2 linked regions of the Homo sapiens genome follow. Changing the gene in region 2 together with the main gene of any one other region gives a genetic interaction. Each region holds a gene or a part of one and is shown on either strand. Other genes may lie near its edges.

Evidence for each region. Genes that interact genetically often act in the same process or in processes that back each other up.
Region 1: of PLAU (region 2) and MAP2K1, changing one suppresses a phenotype caused by changing the other (phenotypic suppression), as found in Homo sapiens cells (one study listed by BioGRID).

The regions. Positions count from the first base shown.
Region 1 is NC_000015.10:66,382,416-66,389,911, forward strand, and holds the start of MAP2K1 (dual specificity mitogen-activated protein kinase kinase 1), read left to right. Parts: upstream 1-4,496; 5' UTR 4,497-4,932; coding exon 4,933-5,012; intron 5,013-7,496. UniProt on the Homo sapiens protein: Dual specificity protein kinase which acts as an essential component of the MAP kinase signal transduction pathway.
Region 2 is NC_000010.11:73,913,397-73,918,622, forward strand, and holds the end of PLAU (urokinase-type plasminogen activator isoform 1 preproprotein), read left to right. Parts: intron 1-142; coding exon 143-362; intron 363-583; coding exon 584-732; intron 733-1,379; coding exon 1,380-1,520; intron 1,521-1,854; coding exon 1,855-2,003; intron 2,004-2,174; exon of another isoform or gene 2,175-2,225; intron 2,226-2,992; coding exon 2,993-3,169; 3' UTR 3,170-4,098; downstream 4,099-5,226. UniProt on the Homo sapiens protein: Specifically cleaves the zymogen plasminogen to form the active enzyme plasmin.

The sequences.
Region 1 (7,496 bases), on a different chromosome or scaffold from region 2:
TTCTGTTTTCCAGGCTGGTGTGCAAGATCATGGCTCACTGCAGCCTTGACTTCGGCTCAAGCGATCATCCCACCTCAGCCTCCAGAGTAGCTGGGACTGCAGGCATGTGCCACTATGCCTGTCTAATATTTGTATTTTTTGTAGAGATGGGGTTTCGTCATATTGCCCAGGCTAGTGTTGAACTCCTGGGCTCAAGTCATCCACCTGCCTCAGCCTTCCAAAGTGCTGGGATTACGGGAGTGACAGGAGTGAGCCACCACACCTGGCCTGTATTTCTTGGATCTTCACATTTGTGATCTAGCTACACTGTGTACAAATGGGATGAACCAGTATTTGCCAATATTCAAACATTTTTGACCTACAAATAGAGCAACCTGATATGGTTCAACCAAATATATATGTTACAGTGTTTATTATTATACATCACTGATTCATACACATATAGTTCAGTCTTATTCTTGTCTGTATGGTCAGCACTTATGTTAGGCCCTCAGGAAAAGTTGACAGAACCGATGGATCACTGCCGGTCTGAAAAGGAAATGAGGAAAACAAATTCTCCTACCTTGAACTATTCTGCAAACTTTAACCATTGGGGTAATTGTTTATCTGGGCTTCTTGGATCATGATAAGGGCTTAGGGTTTACTCAGTGGAGGCCAACCCAGCATGCATAGAATCATAATATTTCAATATTAAAAAGAATGCTGCATTTTACACAGAGTGGAAGTGAGGCCTTGAAAATTTCAATTAATTGCTCAAAGTCCTAATAGTTTTTATTTGAACTAGTAAATATAAAATTATACCAGAATTCAGATAGACTGCCTTGATAATAGATTACTTTGAAAAGTTTCAATTTTTTTTTTTTTTTTGAGATAGTCTCACTGTGTTGCACAGGCTGGAGTACAGTGGAGTGATCTTGGCTCACTGTAACCTCCACCTCCTGGGTTCAAGTGATTCTCCAGCTTCAGCCTCCCAAGTAGCTGGGACTACAGGCACCCGCCACCACATTCAGATAATTTTTGTATTTTTAGTAAAGACAGGGTTTCACCATGTTGGCCAGGCTTGGTCTTGAACTCCTGACCTCAGGTGATCCTCCCACCTCAGCCTCCCAAAGTGCTGGGATTAAAGGTGTGAGCCACCACCACACCTGGCCTTCAATTCACTTTTTAATGTTTATTATTTTACTCTGATACTAAAAATTATGCATGTTTAACATGAATAAGGACACACTTCTACACACACATGCATACATTTACATCTATGCCTCTATATTAAAAAGTATGGGGGAAAGAAATGGGGAGATGTAGGTCAAAGAATATAAAGCAGCAGATATGTAGGATGAAGAAGTCTAGAGATCTAATGTACAACATGAAGACCATAGTTAATAACATTGTATTTTATTTGCGTTTTTTGTTAAATAAGTAGATTTTAGCTGCTCGTCATACTTTACACAAGCCTTTATGTGACGGTATAGATATGTTAATTCACTTCACTATAGTAACCATTTTACTATCTATATATATCCCATAACATCATGTTACAAACCTCAAATATACACAATAAAATTTATTTTTATTTATTTAATTTATTTATTTATTTTTGAGACGGAGTCTTGTTCTGTCGCCCAGGCTGGAGTGCAGTGGCGCGATCTCGGCTCACTGCAAGCTCCACCTCCCGGGTTCACACCATTCTCCTGCCTCAGCCTCCTGAGTAGCTGGGACTACAGGCACCCACCACCACGCCCGGCTAATTTTTTGTATTTTTTAGTAGAGATGGGGTTTCACCGTGTTAGCCAGGATGGTCTCGATTTCCTGACCTCGTGATCTGCCCACCTCAGCCTCCCAAAGTGCTGGGATTACAGGCATGAGCCACCGCGCCCGGCCTATTTTATTTATTTTTGAGACAGAGTCTTGCTCTGTTGCCCAGGCTGGAGTGCAGTGGTGCAATCTCGGCTCACTGCAAACTCTGCCTCCCTGGTTCAGGCAATTATCCTGCCTCAGCCTCCTGAGTAGCTGGGATTACAGGTGCCCACCACCATGCCTGGCTAATTTTTGTAATTTAGTAGAGACGGGGTTTCACCATGTTGGCCAGGCTGATCTTGAAGTCCTGACCTCAAGTGATCTTCCAGCTTTGGCCTCACAAAGTGCTGGGATTACAGGTGGTAGCCGCCACTGCATCCACCCAGAATAATTTATTTTTTAAAAAACTATGAGTTCAGGCCGGGCGCAGTGGCTCACGCCTGTAAACCCAGCACTTTGGGAGGCCGAGGTGGGCGGATCACCTGAGGTCAGGAGTTTGAGACCAGCCTGGCCAACATGGTGAAATCCTGTCTCTACTAAAAATACAAAATTAGCCAGGCATGGTGGTGCATGCCTGTAATCCCAGCTACTTGGGAGGCTGAGGCAGGAGAATCACTTGAGCTTGGGAGGTGGAGGTTGCAATGAGCCAAGGTTGCGCCATTGCACTCAAGCCTGGGCAAAAAGAGCAAAACGCCACTCAAAAACAAAAACAAAACAAAACAAAAACACCCCCCCAAAAAACAAAACAAAACAATGAGTTCACACTGATACCTCCAATTCCAATACAATAGCGTAAGGTATTCTCCCTTCCCATACTTCTAACGTCATTCTACCACAGTGAGAAAGCTGGCTCTGTCATGCTTAATATATTTAGTGACTTAATCAACCATCCTGAATGCAACTAACCTCCCATCTAAGCTTCTAGGCCTTCCCCACTTGGATGCCTTGTTCTCCCCTCTTGGGCCCTACGGCTAAGACTTTGTGTAGGACTGCCTCCCAGGTGTTCAAGCCCTCTTCATTTTCTCAGGTTCCTCAGCCTCCTTACCTGCTAGGTCACCAACACCTGGCTGTGGATAACCAGGTGTAGATGTTTCCTTTGTTCTGTACACGTTTCCTTTGTTCTGTACACCTAATGTCTTTGACACTTAGTATTTTAGGATGGGAAAGGGGAAGAGGAACACTGAATGTGCACTTTTAAATGGGTATTGTGCCTCTTATTAAGCTCTTTATTCACATCTTATTTCTTTAGTAATTCACAGAATTGGAATTTTTGGATTAAAGTTCTTTTTTTTTTTGAGACGGGGTCTCACTCTGTCGCCCAGGCTGGAGTGCAGTGGTGTGATCTTGGATCACTGCAACCTCCGCCTCCCGAGTTCAAGCAATTCTCTGCCTCAGCCCCCCAAGTAGTTGGGATTACAGGCACCCGCCACCACGCCCAGCTAATTTTTTGTATTTTTAGTAGAGATGGGTTTCACCATCTTGGCCAGGCTGGTCTTGAACTCCTGACCTCGTGATCCACCCGTCTCGGCCTCCCAAAGTTCTGGAATTACAGGCGTGAGCCACCGCGCCTGGCCTGGATGAAAGTTTTTTTAAAGGGAGTCTTGCTCTGTAGCCCTGGCTGGTGTGCAGTGGTGTGATCATAGCTCACTGCAGCCTCAAACTCCTGGGCTCAAGTGATCCTCCAGCCTCAGCCTCCTCAGTAGCTTGGACGACAGCTGCACACAACCATGCCCAGCTAATAGAGACGGGGGACTCACTATGTTGCCCAGGCTAGTCTCGAACTCCTGGGCTCAAGTGATCCTCTTGCCTGGGCCTCCCAAAATTGGGATTACAGGCGTGAGCCACCGCTCCTGGCCCGAAAGAGTGTTTTTAAGGCTTTAAAAAAATATTGCCAACATGGTGAAAACCCGTTTCTACAAAAATACAAAAAGGATCCGGGCATGACGGCGAGTGCCTGTAATCCCAGCTACTCAGGAGACTGAGGCAGGAGAATCGCTTGAACGTGGGAGGCAGAGGTGGTAGTTAGCGGAGATCGCGCCACTACACTCCAGGCTGGGCAACTGAGGGAGACACCGTCTTAAAAAAAAAAAAGTTCCCAAGTCTAAAAAAAAAAAAATCATCAATCTGCTCTCAAAAACTGTCGCAACAATTTACAATCTCATCAGCACTGAGTATCCATTTCCTTGCACCCTTCTCAGTAGTATTACCATTAAACAAACAAAATTTATATGCGTCAGTTTGTTGGGCTCAAAGGAGCCTCTCGACAAGTTTCCTATTCCCCACGCTGCCTCTCCTCTGGACACAGGAAGGGGTCCTTTTCCTTATTTATTTTGTTATTTCATTTTCGTCAACACGGCTCGGCTTGGGGACAGGGGTCGGGGGCAGGCCGGTTACCGCAGAGGTGGAGGCCGCGCGGCACCTGGCCTGGAGAGCTCACCACACAGCGACACAGACTTCTTCTCAGCTGGGTCCACCTGCTTGCCTCGGGGCGACAGAGGGCGCCACGGCGTCCGCGACGGACCCCGCCCCCAGGCAGTGCGCCGCGCTCCCGTGACGTATTTCCGCGTCATCTGCCGCCGAGGCTTGCCCCCATTGGTTGTCTGCGAGGCAATAGGGGCGGAGCCGAGTGGGAGTGTGGAAAGCGCCGCATCCCGGGTGGGAGGCGAGGCTTCCCCTTCCCCGCCCCTCCCCCGGCCTCCAGTCCCTCCCAGGGCCGCTTCGCAGAGCGGCTAGGAGCACGGCGGCGGCGGCACTTTCCCCGGCAGGAGCTGGAGCTGGGCTCTGGTGCGCGCGCGGCTGTGCCGCCCGAGCCGGAGGGACTGGTTGGTTGAGAGAGAGAGAGGAAGGGAATCCCGGGCTGCCGAACCGCACGTTCAGCCCGCTCCGCTCCTGCAGGGCAGCCTTTCGGCTCTCTGCGCGCGAAGCCGAGTCCCGGGCGGGTGGGGCGGGGGTCCACTGAGACCGCTACCGGCCCCTCGGCGCTGACGGGACCGCGCGGGGCGCACCCGCTGAAGGCAGCCCCGGGGCCCGCGGCCCGGACTTGGTCCTGCGCAGCGGGCGCGGGGCAGCGCAGCGGGAGGAAGCGAGAGGTGCTGCCCTCCCCCCGGAGTTGGAAGCGCGTTACCCGGGTCCAAAATGCCCAAGAAGAAGCCGACGCCCATCCAGCTGAACCCGGCCCCCGACGGCTCTGCAGTTAACGGGACCAGCTCTGCGGAGTAAGTATGGGGCGGGCGGTGAACCTCGGGGCCCGGCTGGGGAGGCCCGAGCCGGGGAGCAGGAGCGCGCGCCAGGCTCCGATCTGGTTTGTCACGTACGTCTGGGGCTGGCAGGGGGCGAGAAACTCCCGGCCGCCGAGGTATCGGTGACTAAGCACTGATTGTGTTCCTGACTCAGACCAGTTAGCGGATCCCGCGGGTCTCCATTCCTCTCTGTACCCCTTTTCCCGACCGTTTTAGTGGTTCCTGGCCACTGTACAGTCTTCTCCCAAGAAAATAAAAGCTAGCACGTCTCCCCTGCCTCCTCCCAGTTCTGTTCTAAATGTGATCATCTGGGAGTCTGGCCTGTAACGGGGAGAGGAGGCTAATGTTTTGGAAAGAATTAAGATCGCATCTGTGCTTTTGAGACCAGCTCAGGGTATTAAGTGTGGAGCATCATCCTCACCTTCATGCCTGACACCTGTGGGGCCTGAGTGCCTTGTTGCAGGCCAACTGCCTGGCCAGCGGGGGCGTGCTGGAAGTCCGTGTGGACTTCGTGGCTTTTCCTTGCTGACTTTGGAGGTTCCTGGTACTTGGCCTTCCTGGGAAATTGCTCAAGAAAGCGGCTTTCTTCTTCATCCTACTCTTCATTCATTCATTGAACAAACCATTTTCTCACTAATGATTTCCTAGCTTTCCGTACTTCACCAGGAGCCCCTAAACTCCTGACCTGAGGCATGAACACCATGACCTAGAAACCACATGCTAGGTGCTCCATCTCTGCAGCTTCCAGCGTTGCTTACAAACGAGCACTTTATTTCATTAAATAATCATGAGTCTGTTTCCTGGGGGTTTCTGAGCTCCCACAACTCTCTTGGGTTCTAGGTAAGGGACAAGACTATGTGAGGGAAAGCTGCTTAGCTAGCTAGAGAAATAGCCAGAAAAGATTAGGTTATTATTATTTTTTTGCCTTTTTTTGGTTGTTGTTTGCCCAACCTTCAATAAGGATTGGGTTCTTAATCTTTTACCTGCACACTGCAGACTTTAGGAAGCTAATTGATGAAATCAGAATAGGCTTGGACCTTATGCTCTTTGGTGATTTCTGTAACCTCCCTTCCTTTCTCTAGATTTTTAGAAAATTTTATTTTTTAAACTTTTATACAGATGGGGTCTTGCTATATTGCTTAGGCTGGTCTTGAACTCCTGGACTCTAGCGATCCTCCCAAAGTGCTGGGATTACAGGCATGAGCCACTATGCCCAGCCAACTTTCTCTAGATTTTAATAACCCGGGGACCTGTTGGCTTGATGACTTGTTCCATCCCTGTAATGATCACAAGGTCGATGGTGGACCTGTGGTGTGTGTTCAGCTGTGTTTTTCAGACCTGCTCCCAACAGACTCTCTTCTTTAGTCCCCTCTCAATCCTGTGGGGTCTATTTTGCATAATACTGACTTGTATAGGTAGTTGGATTGCATTATTGCATTGCAAACATTTGTTCTTTTTTTTTTTTTTTTTTTGAGTCGGAGTTTCACTCTTGTTGCCCAGGCTGGAGTGCAATGGTGCGATCTTGGCTAACTGCAGCCTCTGCCTCCCGGGTTCAAGCGACTCTCCTGCCTCAGCCTCCCGAGTAGCTGGGATTACAGGCATGCGCCACCATGCCCGGCTAATTTTGTATTTTTAGTAGAGATGGGGTTTCTCCAAGTTGTTCAGGCTGGTGGCAAACTCCCGTCCTCAGGTGATCCACCTGCCTCGGCCTCCGAAAATGCTGGGATTACAGGCATGAGCCACCGTGCCCAGCCCATTTGTTCAGTTTTAGTATACAGTGTTTCACCCTCTTAAAATAGACTGAAAGTCATGACTGTTGTTAGGACAAGTTTTGACCACAGTGGATTCTGGCTGAGTGTTATGGCCTCATTATCCTTTCCTATTTGATTTGGAAGTGGATACTGAGTAGAAGTACCTGTTATCATTCTGTTGTAATCGTGATACCACAACTGTATTCTCTCAAGGAGGAGGAATTTCATTAAAACAGTAAAAGCAGGATGAGAAGAAACTACCCCAGATTTGGTGGCAGAAAAATTTGGATGGTACTGGGAGAGTCTAAACAGTGGTTAAAAGGTAAGGGCTCTGGAGTCAGGCTAAGTTTGAAGCCTAGCTCTGTTGTGGTTTTTTTTTTTTTTTTTTTTTTTTGACAGTCTCGCTCTGTTGCCCAGGCCAGAGTGCAGTGGTGCGATCTCGGCTCACCACAACCTCCACCTCCCGGCTTCAAGCGATTCTCCTGCCTCAGCCTCCTAACTAGCTGAGACTACAGGCACGTGCAACCGTGCCTGGCTAATTTTTGTATTTTAATAGAGACAGGGTTTTACCCTGTTGGTCAGGCTGGTCTCAAACTCCTGACCTCGTGATCCTCCCACCTCAGCCTCCTAAAGTGCTGGGATTACAGCCCGGCCTCTGTTGTGGTTTTGTGACCTGGTTCAAGTCTTTTAGTCTAAGGCTTAGGTTTAG
Region 2 (5,226 bases):
CTGCTGATGACAGTGGGGTGGAAGGGGACAAACTTACATGTCCCCTTATTCCATCACAGGAGGACTGAGGAGGTGGGGGGTGCCCGAGAGGGATGCTTTCTCCTACCTGCCTCCCTAAGACATCCCTCTGTTTGTCCTCCAGGAAAAAAGCCCTCCTCTCCTCCAGAAGAATTAAAATTTCAGTGTGGCCAAAAGACTCTGAGGCCCCGCTTTAAGATTATTGGGGGAGAATTCACCACCATCGAGAACCAGCCCTGGTTTGCGGCCATCTACAGGAGGCACCGGGGGGGCTCTGTCACCTACGTGTGTGGAGGCAGCCTCATCAGCCCTTGCTGGGTGATCAGCGCCACACACTGCTTCATGTACGGCCCTGGGTTTCTCCTCTTCGACTCTTCTGCCCCACCCCAAGCACATCCCTTTCTCCTTCCCAGCAAAGTGTTCCGCCTCATTTCTCCCTCATCTGCCCCTGTCCATGCAGCCCATGGCCTTGGGGACAAGTCGTGCTTTGAGGCCTCTAGGGAGGGAAGGAAGAAGTGGCAGATTTCATGGGACTAAGCTGTTTGATGGGTATCTTCTCCCACAGTGATTACCCAAAGAAGGAGGACTACATCGTCTACCTGGGTCGCTCAAGGCTTAACTCCAACACGCAAGGGGAGATGAAGTTTGAGGTGGAAAACCTCATCCTACACAAGGACTACAGCGCTGACACGCTTGCTCACCACAACGACATTGGTGAGGGGGAACCCCGCGACTACTGTGGCCATAATGGCTTGGGGAGAGTGGGACCCAGGGAGAGACTGGAGCTGAGGTTGAAGCTGCCCGGTGGGGCAGGGGTGGGGCGAGGGACCTTGAAGCCTCGATATACATGACAAAGGGAGTGGCAGGGAAGAGTTCCATGAAGTCTGAGGGGCCTGGTGCTCCTCTGGAGAGACCCTGAATTTCCCCAACAAGTAGCCTCTTGCGAGTGGAAACAGCCCTGTGGGTATATGGCTTGGGCTGGGAAGGCCCTGTTTATATGAATTAGAAAAAGACACACCTTCCTTTGTGGGATGCAGCCTCTGTCTGTGCTAGGATATAGAACTTGGAGAATGGAGCCTTGGGATGGATTCCAGCCTAACTACCTCAGCTGGGAGTTTTTGCAGAAACGACCTGTACAGCTGTATGCAGTGGCTCTGGCCATCCAAGCCTTTTTCAACACCTGGAACAAAGCCCTTGGGGCATGGGGCAGGGGAGGTTTCCAGGTGATAAGCGACCAGCAGACCTCCCTGGATGACTGACCTAGGGATAGGCATAGCTACTTCCTCGGCACTTGGAGGGGACAGATGGGGACCGCCTAACCAGTAGTGATCTTTCTCCTCTGACCCTCTGTCCTCCCCCAGCCTTGCTGAAGATCCGTTCCAAGGAGGGCAGGTGTGCGCAGCCATCCCGGACTATACAGACCATCTGCCTGCCCTCGATGTATAACGATCCCCAGTTTGGCACAAGCTGTGAGATCACTGGCTTTGGAAAAGAGAATTCTAGTAAGTGACAATTGCGACTGACTTAGAAGGTCCTGAGGAGTGTTTTGACCTGAAAATGAGCCCAGCGTGATCAAGGGAAGACTGCAGAGTTAGAGGTGGGAGCACTGAGGCGGTGGCAGATGGGTCCAGGGATGGATGAAGAGTGTTGTTTAGGGAGCGATGGGCTGCAAAGGTAAATAGATGGTAGGGGCTATAGGTGGAGTAAAGGCTCAGATTTGCATGGAAGAGAATAAGGGCCTTCCCTGGTAGAGATACTTTATGGTTCCCCTCTCTGGCAGACTCCCAGTGGACAGATAAATCTTGATGCAAACGCCTCCCTGTTTTCTCCACCTAGCCGACTATCTCTATCCGGAGCAGCTGAAAATGACTGTTGTGAAGCTGATTTCCCACCGGGAGTGTCAGCAGCCCCACTACTACGGCTCTGAAGTCACCACCAAAATGCTGTGTGCTGCTGACCCACAGTGGAAAACAGATTCCTGCCAGGTGAGTGTTCCAAGCATCTCTCTCCACCTCTTCCATATCTCCCCAGAGCTCCTGGGCTTGTTCCAGCCAGCTTAAGGGTGTCTCTCTCTAGCCAAAGCCCTAAGTAGCCAGAATCAGGAGCTCAGGTCTTTGAGGGTTTAAACCAGTCCTTATGTGTTTGCCAGACATTACCAAAAAAATCCCAGCTCTGCGCTAGTCACTTCAGACTGGGGGCACGAGATCCTAGAAAGAGGAAACAGTAAAAGACAATGTAACTCAGTGCCCAGGGTGTGTTGTGAACTATAAATGATCAGGTGTTCAGGAGAGGGAGGTGAGTGCCAACCTGAGGGTCAGGGAGGGGAGGCTTTAAAGGAAATGTGACTTGATAGGCATTTGAAGAGGCAGAGGGAAGAAAGGAAGGTGTTTCAGTTGAAAGATACAAAACTGAGAAGGAGGCTGGCATATTCCGGGTGGGGAGGAGAACTAGGGTCTGGGAGTGTGGATGGAATAGTGGCAGATGACAGGGCTTTTAAAGCCAAGCAGGGGATTTTAAACTTGATGTGGTAGAAAATGGGGCTGCGTCAGGCACAGTGGCTCATGCCTGTAATCCCAGCACTTTGGGAGGCCGAGGTGGATGGATCACTTGAGGCCAGGAGTTTGAGACCGGCCTGGCCAACATGGTGAAACCCTGTGTCTACTAAAAATGCAAAAAAAAATTAGCCAGGTGTGGTGGTGCCTGCCTGTAATCCCAGCTAATCAGGAGGCTGAGACATGGGAATCGCTTGAGCACAGGAGGCAAGTTTGCAGTGAGCTGAGATCACGTCATTGCACGCCAGCCTGGGCGACAGAGCGAGATTCTGTCCTCCCCCCGAAAAAAAGAAAGAAAATGGGAAGTCGCTAAGGACTTTGACTGGGAAACTCTTCCCTCTCTCTGGTATGGTTGGGTGATGGGATCAGAAATCCCCTCCTCACTTCTCTAGGGCTCATCTTTTGTATCTTTGGCGTCACAGGGAGACTCAGGGGGACCCCTCGTCTGTTCCCTCCAAGGCCGCATGACTTTGACTGGAATTGTGAGCTGGGGCCGTGGATGTGCCCTGAAGGACAAGCCAGGCGTCTACACGAGAGTCTCACACTTCTTACCCTGGATCCGCAGTCACACCAAGGAAGAGAATGGCCTGGCCCTCTGAGGGTCCCCAGGGAGGAAACGGGCACCACCCGCTTTCTTGCTGGTTGTCATTTTTGCAGTAGAGTCATCTCCATCAGCTGTAAGAAGAGACTGGGAAGATAGGCTCTGCACAGATGGATTTGCCTGTGCCACCCACCAGGGCGAACGACAATAGCTTTACCCTCAGGCATAGGCCTGGGTGCTGGCTGCCCAGACCCCTCTGGCCAGGATGGAGGGGTGGTCCTGACTCAACATGTTACTGACCAGCAACTTGTCTTTTTCTGGACTGAAGCCTGCAGGAGTTAAAAAGGGCAGGGCATCTCCTGTGCATGGGTGAAGGGAGAGCCAGCTCCCCCGACGGTGGGCATTTGTGAGGCCCATGGTTGAGAAATGAATAATTTCCCAATTAGGAAGTGTAACAGCTGAGGTCTCTTGAGGGAGCTTAGCCAATGTGGGAGCAGCGGTTTGGGGAGCAGAGACACTAACGACTTCAGGGCAGGGCTCTGATATTCCATGAATGTATCAGGAAATATATATGTGTGTGTATGTTTGCACACTTGTGTGTGGGCTGTGAGTGTAAGTGTGAGTAAGAGCTGGTGTCTGATTGTTAAGTCTAAATATTTCCTTAAACTGTGTGGACTGTGATGCCACACAGAGTGGTCTTTCTGGAGAGGTTATAGGTCACTCCTGGGGCCTCTTGGGTCCCCCACGTGACAGTGCCTGGGAATGTATTATTCTGCAGCATGACCTGTGACCAGCACTGTCTCAGTTTCACTTTCACATAGATGTCCCTTTCTTGGCCAGTTATCCCTTCCTTTTAGCCTAGTTCATCCAATCCTCACTGGGTGGGGTGAGGACCACTCCTGTACACTGAATATTTATATTTCACTATTTTTATTTATATTTTTGTAATTTTAAATAAAAGTGATCAATAAAATGTGATTTTTCTGATGACAAATCTCCCTGGTGCTTGTATGGGAAGGAGTTGGAGTACATAAAAAGGAGAAAATAACAAAGGTGGACTGCACCCTAGAGTTTCTTATGGGACTGCATCTCTGGACTTAATGGAGCTTTGGGAGGTAGAGGTTAGGAGAGCTGTAGGGCAGGGCCACCACAGCACTTAATGTATACAAAGTTTCCCCAAACCACAATCCCATGGCTGTGTAAGTAGTGTACAGGCTTAGTGTCAGCTCCCAATTGCCTCCTTAACCTGATGCCTTTGTGCAGTGCACATCTTGTACAGCTGTACATGGTGGTCTTCTTTAGGGTTAACTCCACAACAGTCTCTTCACTCTGCCCCCAACAATCCTTGAGCTGACCTCAACCAAGAAGAACACCTGTGGCCAGGTGTAGTGGCTCATGCCTGTAATCCTAACATTTTGAGAGGCTGAGGTGGGAGAATCGCTTGAGCCCAGGAGTTTGAGACCAGCCTGGGAAACTTAGTGAGACCCTGTCTCTGCAAAAAATAAAAAAATTAGCCAGGTGTGGTAGCACATGTCTGTAGTCCTAGCTACTTGGGAGGCTGAGGCAGGAGGATCCTAAGCCAAGGAGTTCAAGTTTACAGTCAGCTGATTGTGCCACTGCACTCCAGCCTAGGTGACAGAGCAAGACCCTGTCTCAAAAAAAAAAAAAAAAAAAAAAGAAGAAGAAGACCTGTAAGTGAAAATTGCTGGCCAGGCTCAGTGGCTCACGCCTGTAATCCAGCACTTTGGGAAGCCGAGGTGTGTGGATCACCTGAGGTCAGGAGTTTGAGACCAGCCTGACCAACATAGTGAAACCCCATCTCTACTAAAAATACAAAAAAATTAGCCGGGTGTGGGGGTGGGTGCCTGTAATCCCAGCTACTCGGGAGGCTGAGGCAGGAGAATCATTTGAACCCGGGAGGCAGAGGTTGCAGTGAGCCGAGATCGCACCACTGCACTCCAGCCTGGGCGACAGAGGGAAGACTTCGCCTCAAATAAATAAAAAAATAAATAAAGAAAGAAAATTGCTTATCCAGAATGCCAGCTTGACTCTGTGGCATTCAGGAAACAAAAAACATAATTTCCCATCATCTGTGTGTGGGACTGATGCTGGAAT